Linked DNA regions of Homo sapiens: region 2 is linked to region 1. A link means that fine-mapping ties the variant in region 1 to the expression of a gene that starts in the linked region. Tissue or cell type: whole blood. Region 1 holds a variant in brackets; the other region holds the start of a gene. All regions are shown on one strand. Distances are from middle to middle.

The links. PIP is the estimated chance that this variant, and not a neighbour inherited with it, causes the effect.
Region 2: it holds the start of CYFIP1, and the variant in region 1 is fine-mapped to the expression of CYFIP1 in whole blood (INTERVAL, PIP 0.92).

Annotation. Positions count from the first base shown.
Region 1 is chr15:22,844,269-22,849,975 of GRCh38, forward strand. It overlaps NIPA2 (NIPA magnesium transporter 2), which reads left to right. Exons shown (of 8, transcript NM_030922.7): 3 at 878-999. Among named protein-coding and RNA genes, the nearest start is that of NIPA2, 8.5 kb to the left of the region's middle. RefSeq lists enhancers at 394-503, 1,058-1,167. The variant A/AATTAATAATAAT (reference allele first, on the strand shown) is at 2,550.
Region 2 is chr15:22,977,391-22,983,097 of GRCh38, forward strand. CYFIP1 (cytoplasmic FMR1 interacting protein 1) reads right to left here and starts at 2,978. Exons shown (of 31, transcript NM_014608.6): 1 at 2,897-2,978. It also overlaps a transcript of TUBGCP5 not described here. RefSeq lists enhancers at 1-177, 1,307-2,274, 2,275-3,243.

The DNA.
Region 1 (5,707 bases):
TGAACTTGTTGGCCGGGAGTGGTGGTTCACTCCTGTAATCCCAGCACTTTGGGAGGCCAAGGTGGGCGGATCACAAAGTCAGGAGTTCGAGACCAGCCTGGCCAACATAGTGAAACCCCGTCTCTACTACAAAAAATTAGCCGGGTGTGGCAGTACACGTCTGTAATCCCAGCTATGCGGGAGGCTGAGGCAGGAGACTTGCTTGAACCCGGGAGACGGAGGTTGCAGTGAGCCGAGATGGCGCCATCGCACTCCAGCCCGGGCGACAGTGCAAGACTGTGACTCAAAAAAAAAAAGAGTTTGTTAAAATGTAGAGAGAACAAGCAGAACAAAAAAATTAGCTAGGTGTCGTGGTATACGCCTGTGGTCCTGTTGATTTGAGCAGCTGAGGTCAGAGATCACTGCAACCCAGGCATTTGAGACAGCAGTGAGCGATGATCGCGCCACTGCACTCCAGCCTGGGAAACAGAGTGAGACACTGTCAAAAACCACAACAACAACAACAACAACAAAAAAGCCCTTCCCCTCCCACACACAGAATAAGCAGAAAATCATAAGACTCTTTAAAAGTGTTTAAAACGTCAGTAGGTTATTTTTGGAATTTTTAATTCTCTTAGTCGTGGAGTCCTTGAGGATAGGCCCTTTGATCATCTTTACAACTTCAGTGCCTGGCAGATAATAGCTGCTCAGTGTTTGTTGAGCAATGGTCACAGTTCGGATTACTCCCGAGTCCCCCTAAGTAAACTGGGCAGGTGAACCACATGGAGCTTGGGAACCTAGTTGAAGTGAAATTTAGAAAATTTTACTGTTTATCTGTCTTTAATACTGGCCCTGCCTCATGGCTAATTCTTAAGAAGAAAAAATATCTCTGTTGCAGGCTCTCCCGGCTGTGATAGACCTTCAGTTACAGAGAGAGGGAGCAGAGTGGGACCAGGTCTGAGAATAGTGAAGCAACTCATTCCTTTCAGGACATTCCCTCTGATGTCCTATTTTCAAACTGTAAGTCAGAATGAGATCACTTATTTTCTTGGTGGCAGAAGGCTGCTTTATAATTTGAAGGCTTGCAAATTGTATGCTGCTTGTCATCCCCCAGCCCTCCACACATACACCCTGGTACAGTTCCATGCATGAAGAAACAACCAGATCACCTTATTTGGTGATATGCCTCATTCTAGAAAGATTTGTAAATCAAATTTGCTACCGTAAATGAGTGCCTTTTGTGGGGAAACCACCACAGAAAACCTAAGTAATTGTTTTTAAGGAACTTAAAGAGTTTACCTTGAAGATAGAACAGTAGTTGAGAATTAAATAGTAAAGAAGAGAAAATGCCTGTGGGCTGGAGTTAATTGCAGAAGTCTTTGTAGCACAGCTTAAGGTGTACCCTGGCCTTGAGTGGAGAGCAGGCTTTGGGTTGCAGGAGGAGGAGGAGGGGAGGGCCTGTCTGAGGGTGTCAGGTTTCTGTGTTAGGAAATGAAGTGGGCAGGAGAGGGGTGCCTGGCCAGGGGGACTCTCGAAAGCCATATGCACATGATGGACCCAGCTGGTCAGAAAAGGCCTTCTCTCTGCTTTTTGTGTTTGAAATTTCCCATAACACATAAATTAAAATAAAAGGGAAAGGGGAAAATAGATTTTAAATAGCATCATGAAACTTTATGTAAAATAAATATGGAGAAAATCTCATATGATAGCCTTAGTAAGGTTAGGAATAATGTTCATTGGCCTTAGGATTAAATGAGTAAAATTCCATTATATGTATTGTTTTAATCACCTCTTCACCTTGTCAGTGAGAGAGGGATTTCCATCCCACAGTACTGACACTGGACAGACGAGATGGACGGAAGTTTCTTAGTCTTTCGCTTAGGATAGAACGGAGAACCAGGGGCTGCGGGAGGCAAGGCTTTGTGGTAACGAGAGTGGCTGTGGTTCCTGCAGAAAGACTAATAATTGCTTTCAGAATTCCTTGGGCTGGCAGGGCAGTGGGGCCTACTCCTCAGGCATAAGCAGCAACTGTACCTGTGCCTGGTCACTGTGATGAGAATTGTTTGGCATCTTGGGGAGGGAAGCTTGCCCTGAGGCCATTAAAAGCTCCTGGTTTTTACCAGATGTCAAGGCAACATGTAATACTGGCTCTTAATGTTAGACCTTACACCACATGTATGTAACTTGCATTTAGTGAAAGTTAACATTAAGTGTTAGTAAATATTAGTAAATTAAGTAGTTACAAATCAGTTATTTGAAAGGTTCATGATACAAGTAAAATCTGGGCAGGATGCAGTGGGTGACACTTGTAATCTACCACTTTGGGAGGCCGAGGCAGGCAGATCGCTTGAGCTCAGGAGTTTGGGACCAGCCTGGACAACATGGTGAAACTCTGTATCGACAAAAAATACCAAAATTAGCCAGGTGGTGTAGTGTTGCACACTTATGGTCCCAGCTACTTGAGAGGCTGAGGTGGGAGGATCACTTGAGCCTGGGAAGTCGAGGTTGCAGTGAACCATGATTGTGCCACTGCACTCCAGCCTGGGTGACAGAATGAGACCCTGTCTCCA[A/AATTAATAATAAT]AATAATAATAATAATAATAATAATTATTATTATTATTATTTAAATTTGGATTTGTGAGTCTGTTGTTTTTTGTTTTTGTTGTTGTTTTTTTTTTGTTTGTTTGAGACCGAGTTTCGCTCTTGTTGCCCAGGCTGGAGTGCAATGGTGTAATCTTGGCTCACCACAACCTCTGCCTCCCGGGTTCAAGCGATTCTCCTGCCTCAGCCTCCCGAGTAGCTAAGATTACAGGTATGTGCCACCATGCCCTGCTAATTTTTTTGTATTTTTAGTAGAGACAGGGTTTCTCCATGTTGGTCAGGCTGGTCTCGAACTCCCGACCTCAGGTGATCTGCCCGCTTCTTCCTCCCAAAGTGCTGGGATTACAGGCCTGAGCCACCGCGCCCGGCCTTGTGAGTCTATTGTTATACTGGGATTAGAACTGTAGATAAACCTGACTTTTTTCTGGATATCATCTTTATTGGTAAGAAGGTTCAATTTTATTGCTTACAGAATATTCAGACTATAAATTTGATTTGTTCCATTACCATAGAACTTAAAGTATATAGTGAGCAATACAGCTGTCAAGTAGTCACTTCCACAGCAGTAGAACTTGCATGATAATTAAGAACATTGCTTCATGAAGACAAAGATTAAAGGAGGATGATGATTCTTTTTTTTTTTTTCCGAGACGGAGTCTTGCTCTGTCACCTAGGGTGGAATGCAGTGGGGTGATCTCGGCTTACTGAAACCTCCGCCTTCTGGCTTCAAGCAGTTCTCCTGCCTCAGCCTCCCAAGTAGCTATGATTACAGGAACCCGCCACTGCGCCAGCTAATTTTTGTATTTTTAGTAGAGATGGGGTTTCACCATGTTGGCAAGGATGGTCTCGAAATCCTGACCTCGTGATCTGCCCACCTCGGCCTCCCAAAGTGTTGGGATTACAGGCATGAGCCACCGTGCCCGGCCGATGATTTTTATGTCAGATGATCTTTTTTATTTTATCTTATTTTTATTTTTTTGAGACAGAGTTTCTATCTTGTTGCCCAGGCTGGAATGCAATGGCACTATCTCAACTCACCACAACCTCTGCCTCCCTGGTTGAGGCAATTCTCCTGCCTCAGCCTCCCAGGTAGCTGGGATTACAGGCATGTGCCACCACGCCCAGCTAATTTTTGTATTTTTAGTAGAGACGGGGTTTCTCCATGTTGGTCAGGCTGGTCTCGAACTCCCGACCTCAGGTGATCCGCCCACCTCGGCCTCCCAAAGTGCTGGGATTACAGGCGTGAGCCACCACGCCTGGTCGATGATTTTTATGTTGGATGATCTTAAGGAATGCTTTCATTGAAGTGAGGTGACCCTGACTCATGAGAAGGATATACCTGCCAGGAGGGCTGAAGCGTTTGGGTAGCTCGGTTTCTCACTCCCATTTTCGTAGTCCGTATAACCATTTTCCTTGCATTTTCACTTCCATCTAGTACTGCCACTTGCTAGCATATTGGATAAATGATTATGGTTCTCAAGTTTAAAAGCTATAAAACATCGGTTACATTTTAGGATGCCAATCTAAATGATGCAGTAGTTTTCTGTGTATTAATGGCTGCTTTGTTTGTTTGTTTGAGACCAGGCATAACTATGTTGCCCAGGCTAAACTTGAACTCCTGGTTTCAAGCAATCCTTCTGCCTCAGCCTCCTGGTGTGTACCACTGTATCTGGCTGTTTTTAAGGGCTAATTATGAATTATTCCATTTGGCTGGGGTGGTGGCTCATGGCTGTAATCCTAGCACTTTTTGAAGGCTGAGATGGGCGGATCACTCGAGGTCAGGAGTTCCAGACCAGCCTGGCCAACATAGTGAAACTCCATCTCTACTAAAAATACAAAAACTAGCTGGGCATGGCAGCATGTGCCTGTAGTCCCAGCTACTCAGAGGCTGAGGCAGGAGAATCACTTGAACCTGGGCAGTAGAGGTTGCAGTGAGCCGAGATCATGCTACTGCACTCTAGCCTGGGTGACAGAGCAAGACTCTTGTCTCAAAAAAAAAAAAAAAAAAAAAAAAAAGAATTACTCCATTCATCCATATTCACCCAGAAAACACACATTAAGACCTATTTTGAGACTACCAGATAGCTATGTGCATAGGCTAAAAGGGCGAATATCATGCAGGAGCCCAGGAGCTTACAGTCTGATGCAGGAGACTGGCTGATAAACACAGATCAACAAGCCATGCAGGATGCAGTGGGAACAGTGTAAGCACACCTGCTTTTTGTTGCAATCTTACAGCGTGTAGAAATGATGATTGTCCCTGACATCTTGTTTCAAGTTCTCCTACCTTGTCTTTAAATGTGTTTACATCTCTGTAATTTATTTTTACTGTCAATGAGACTCACCTATCTAGAATTATTCCATAGATATGCTGAAGTTAACTTGAGGCTTGAGATGACCAGTATTTGGCACATAAAGTGGGTAATACCTTAGATTGTTCAGCTTCTTTCTTTTTATGTATATATCTGTTAATGTGGTGACTCATCCAAGATCACACCTCCAGCTGGAAGCAAGACGGGGTCTCCAAACTCCCCACCTAAGACTTTTCTCATGGAATCTTGCCTTATGAATGGCACAGAGGGACTAGGGGTACTTTTCCAAATCTGTTAAGGGAGAGGTCAGTTCTGGAAGGCTTTCGGGTAGACAGTCTCATCCATGAGATTATGACTGATACTTAGAAGAACTCAGCACCTTTTTGACTTGAGTGTTTTCTTTCAATGTTTCAGTATTTTTTTTTTTTTTGAGATAGAGTCTCGCTCTGTCGCCCAGGCTGGAGTGCAGTGGCGCGATCTCGGCTCACTGCAAGCTCCCCGTCCCAGGTTCATGCCATTCTCCCGCCTCAGCCTCCCAAGTAGCTGGAACTACAGGCGCCTGCCACCACTTCCGGCTAATTTTGTTTTTGTATTTTTAGTAGAGATGGGGTTTCACCGTGTTAGCCAGGATGACTCGATCTCCTGACCTTGTGATCCACCAGCCTCAGCCTCCCAAAGTGCTGGGATTACATGTGTGAGCCACCGCGCCCGACCCAGTGTTTCAGTATTATTTTGTCTTAGGTTGTGGGGTGACCTGGCTTTTGGGACTTGCTGGTGGTTTCTACCTTGGCATCCTTGTACCTTTTGAGCACTAAAGGTTGTATTTTA
Region 2 (5,707 bases), 130 kb after region 1:
TACTATTGCACTGGCTAAAATAAGGTTTTTAAATTATGTCAGTGTAATTAATCCATGCTTTATCAATGGCCTCTAAGGGTTGGCTAAATTTTAATAGGAAAAACAATGAGAATAGCTTGGACATGTTAGTTAAAACTTCACACTATAAAATATGTTTTGGGTGGGCGCGGTGGTTCACGCCTGTAATCCCAGCACGTTGGGAGGCCGAGGTGGGTGGATCACCTGAGGTCAGGAGTTTGAGACCAGCCTGGCCAACATGGCAAAACCCTGTCTCTACTAAAAATACAAAAATTAGCTGGGTGTGGTGGCAGGCGCCTGTAATCCCAGCTACTCGGAAGGCTGGGGCAGGAGAATTGCTTGAACCCAGGAGGTGGAAGTTGCAGTGAGCCGAGATCACACCATTGCACTCCAGCCTGGGCAACAAGAGCAAAACCCTGTCTCACAAAAAATAAAATAAAATAACATAACATAAAAGAAAAGAAAACAAAGGAGGGAGGGAGATGTTAGCTATTATTTAAACCCAAAGTCACCTTTAGCATTATAAACTTGAGTATGTGCACAAAGATACAGACACAAGCATTGACTGTAGTGGTGAAAAACAGTAAATAACTATAATGTCAATCAACAGGAGGCTGATAAAATTATGAAACATCCACACTACAGAATACTATAGTGATTTGGCCGGGCACAGTGGCTCATGCCTGTAATACCAGCACTTTGGGAGGCTGAGGCGGGCAGATCACTTGAGGTCAGGAGTTCAAGACCAGCCTGGGCAACATGGCAAAACCCCGTCTCTACTAAAAAGACAAAAATTAGCCGGGTGTGGTGGTGCGTGCCTGTAATCCCAGCTACTCAGGGGGCTGAGGTGGGAGAACCACCTGAACCCAGGAGGCATAGGTTGTGGCGAGCCGAGTTTGCGTCACTGCACTCCAGTCTGGGCCACAGAGTTAAGACTCTGTCACAAAAAAAAAAAAAAAAAAAAAAAAAAAAAAGGAATACTATACGGTTATTTAAAAGATTGAGGGAAATCTGTGTGTACAGACTATATATATCAACATGTAAAGATTGCTAAGATCTTTAAGTAACCAAACATCATTAAGTGAAAAATGTATGACGATAATATATGCAATATGATCTCACTATGTTATTTAAAAAATTACTTATGCACAGAAAAGACTATTATACTACTTAGAAGTACCGAGGGAATTTCACTTTTAGTATACACGGTTCTATGCTGTTTAATGTTTTTAATGAACTATAGTTTTGTAATTTTTCTCATCACTTTATCATTTTAGTCTCTCTCTCAGGCTGTATCCGAGAGCCACACTTTTCAGACCCTTGTATCTTTACTCTTCAGGGACAAACCAGAGCATAGCTGAATCTCCAACGCCTTATGCTAAGCGAAACAAGCCAGACTCCAAGCCCACATGTGACATTCTGGAATGGGCAAAGCAGGAGGACTGAGGAACAGACAGGCGGCTGCAAGAGCGGGGAGGAGAGAGGCTGCCTTCCTGAGTATCCTGACTGCGGTGGAAGTCACTACAGTCCATGCACCTGCTACAGCTCACTGAACTGAACACCAAAAAGTGAATCTTACTAAAAGTTTAAAATAAATTTAAACACACACACAAACTTAGGGGGTACATTTTCTTTGAGCGCAGCACAGACACCTGTCTTAACGCAGGAAACGTCCTCCGCCACGACTCCAGGGCGCCTCGGTCGCAGTGAGGGCACCGGCACTATATCCCTACTGGCCCTACGAGTGCACACCTGCTACGGCCCGCGCCCACTCACAGCGTGACTCGTTCTTCCAGGCTCCGTGCCTGCAGATCTAGACATCACTTGGAAAACCGCTGGCCACCCGCAGGGAAAAGGCAGCATGCGTGGGGCCCCCGCGGGTCCCGGCCTGGCCGGGACTCTGCCGCCAAGCTGTCAAGCATAGCAATGTGCGCACTGCACCAGGCATCACCGCGGCTCCGACCACGCCTCATTCCGGAGTCCGACGGACGACTGCAAGAAACACCACCGCTCCCGGCGCAGCCACGGTGCCCTCCGCCGCCAGAAAACAAACGCTCCCGAGCCTCAGTCCCCAGCGGCGACCACGCGGCGCTGGGCTCAATCAGCAGCCGCTCCCTGACTGGACTTAATAGCGGAGCTGACACCGTCCAGACGCCCCTCTCAGCTTAAAACACGTTCCATCAACCCCGTTTCCCGATTATTCTTGCACCCTTCTTGTCACACCCACAATGTGCTGCAAATTAAGCTCACGCATTTCAGCCTTAAAATACACAATTCAGATGCTTGTGCGAAACAGTGCTGCCTCCGTAACGATCGCGCCTCCTTAACAAAGCCCAAAACTCCTCTCTCCAAGAATGCCCGGAATGGCTCCGCGGACCAGGCTCCCTCCGCTCCTCACAGGGGCACGAAACAAAAACGGGTTCAGATCTTGCTGCGCGACCTTAGTGCAACATTAACAATCTGCCTGCTCCTTACTTTCCAACAAAAACGTCAAACACTAAGGTATTCCTTCGCCACTGGAGCTGTGCCATGTGCCGGGGCGCGGAATCCGGGATCCGGGGGCGCGAGGCGGTGAACGCGGGGGCGGGGAGCTCGGGGCCGAGGCCGAAAGGCCGGGGGCGCAGGGACCGGGAAGCCAGTGCAGGGAGTGCGGGGACCTGGAGCCCGGGAGGCGCGGGAGCCCGGGGCCGGGACCTGGGGGACGCGGGGACCAGGACGATCCCGGAGGCCGCGCCGCCGGGGAGGCCGCGCCGCCGGGGTTGGGGGGGAGGGGGGGGTCCGTCCCGGCCCCGCCGCCGCCCTGGCCGGCCCAGGTTCCGAGGGGGACCCGGACCCCGCGGAGGCCGCAGGGCAGGCGCGGGCGAGCGGGGTTCCTCACCTGCGTCCGCGGCGGCTTGGGGGTCCTGGGCGGGCCCTGGGAGTTTCCTTGGCCGAGTGAGTCACTCGGGCTGGCCGGGAATGCGCCAGGAAACACTCGGCCTCCTCCCCTTCCTCCCGGGGCGGGGGCTCTCCCGGCTCGGCCTCTTCCTCCCGGCGCTCCTCCCTCCCGGCCGCGGCCCCGGCCGCTCCCTCCTCCTGGCGGGGCATCCCCGGCCGGGCGGCCCCTTTCCCCACGCCAGCCGCCGAAGGTGTCCTCCCAGGCAGAGAGCCCCTGGCTACCTGCCGGCCTGGGTCACCGCAGCCTGCGCGGGACGGCGGGGTCGGAGCGGAGCGGGCGTGGGGTCCTCCTGCGGGTCCGTCCGGTTCGGAGCGCGAAGGAACGGGGTCCGCACCCTGTCCCGGGGCTCCACCGGGTCAGGGCGGGGGTTGGCCTGAGCTGCGGAAGGAGCTCAGGGGGACACCCAGGACGCCCGTGTGGCGCCGCCCCACTTGGCAGGAGGCGCTCACCTGCGCTCGTCGGGAGGGTTCCAGGCGCGGGTCCCAGCTGCAGGTCGGCGCGCAGAGCCCGCTGGGGACCCCCCCGGCCGGCCCCTGCGGCCCCATTGCCTGCGGGAACCAGGGACAAATCCGTGCGCAGACCTGCGGGAACGGCGGACGGAAGAAAACCTGATTTGAGCTCGTGCCAAAAAACAATCTTGAAAGGCCGGTGAAGAAACATACCTCACACGGAAACGCTGAGTGGAGTCAGCTGGTCACAGGCGTGTTTAGGAAAACTGCCCTAAACGCCCCGCTCAGCCGCAGCAACCTCACTCCCCATTCATCCGCGACCCCTGGTTCTTACGGAGAACAGTAAGGATGGGCATCAGATATTCTAGTCTGGTCTCTAGATTATGAAGGTTTGGTTACCCCCGCTTGTGCTCTGCGGTAAGGCAAAAAGCAGCAAATGAATCCTGACCAGCGGATTGAGACAATCTACCAGTTGACTCAATATTCGGATATCACTTTCTCACATTCCTGCAAAACAGGGGCTTTGGATAACATTCTGGTTCCCAGTCCACACATTTTCAAATCAGCAGATTACTCCTTTTCTGTGCCTAGGGTGGAGTCTCAAAATTAGATTCCAAAGGTTTTTACATTGTAGATGACATGATAGAACCCAAATTCAAGTTATACTGTGATAATTTAAAATATTGTAATCCCGGCCGAGCGCAGTGGCTCACGCCTGTAATCGCAGCATTTTGGGAGTCCGAGGCGGGCGGATCACCTGAGGTCAGGCGTTCGAGACCACACTGGCCAACATGGTGAAGACCCCGTCTCTACTAAAAATACAAAAATTAGTCGGGCATGGTGGTGTGGGCTTGTAATCCCAGCTACTCGGGAGGCCGAGGCAGGAGAATCGCTTGAACCCAGGAAGTGGAGGTTGCAGTGAGCCAAGATCGTGTCGCTGCACTCCGGCCTGGGCGACAGAGCAAGACTCCGTCTTAAAATAATAAAATATTGTAATCCCTAGAGCAATTAATAAAAAATAATACAGCTAAAAATCCAAGAAAAGAGATAAAATAGAATACAAAAATATGCTTGATCCAAAAGAAAGCAGGAAGGAAGGAGCAAAAAGCACATAAGGCAAAGACAAAGAGCAAGCAGTTAGACTTCAACCACATTAGTAATCACATTGAATGTAAATGGACTAAACATGTAATCCGTTTACTAACTGTAAATGGATTAAAACACAGAAATTGTCACATTGGATTAAAAACGAGACCCAAATATATTCTGTTTTAAGAAGACATAATTTTGGCCGGGCACAGTGACTCATGCCTGTTAATCCCAGCACTTTCGGAGGCCAACGCGGGTGGATCAACTGAGGTCAGGAGTTCAAGACGAGCCTGACCCACATGGCAAAACCCCGTCTTTACTAAAAATACAAAATTAGCTGGGTGTGGTGGCACATGCCTATAATCCCAGCTACTCAGGAGACTGAGGCAGGAGAATCGCTTGAACCCGGGAGGCAGAGGTTGCAGTTAGCTGAGATTGCGCCATTGAACTCCAGCCTAAGCAACAAGAGTGAAACCTGGTCTCAAAAAAAAAAAAAAAAAAAGACATAATTTAAATATAAGGACACAAAGAGGCTGAAATTAAAAAGATGCAAAAGGACATGCTAATCAGAAAGGTGGAGTGATTATATTAATATCAAAGTAGAATTCAACTCAAGGGGCACTATCAGTGATAAAAAGGACATTTGATAAAAATAAATGGGTCAATTAAGTATGAAAAAATAGGCCGGGCATGGTGGCTCACGCCTGTAATTCCAACACTTTGGGAGGCTGAGGCGGGCAGGTCATCTGAGGTCAGGAGTTCGAGACCAGCCTGGCTAACATACCCTGTTTCTACCAAAAATACAAAAAATTAGCCAGGTCTGGTGGCACATGCCTGTAATCCCAGCTACTCGGGAGGTTGAGGCAGGAGAATCGCTTCAACCTGGGAGGCGAAGGTTGCAGTAATCCCAGCTACTTGGGAGGTTGAGGCAGGAGAATCACTTGAACCCGGGAGGCGGAGGTTACAGTGAGCCAAGGTCGTGCCATTGCACTCTAGCTTGGGCAACAAGAGTGAAACTCCGTCTCAAAAGAAAAGGAAGAAAAAATAACTTTTAGTGCATATATACATCAAATAAGTTTTGAAATATTTAGACAAAGATGGATAGAATCAAAAGAAGAAATAGGCGAATACACACTCATAGAGATTTGAACTTCTCTCTATTAGTAATTGATAGGACAGGCAGACACAAAAAGAAGTAAAGATACAAAATTTT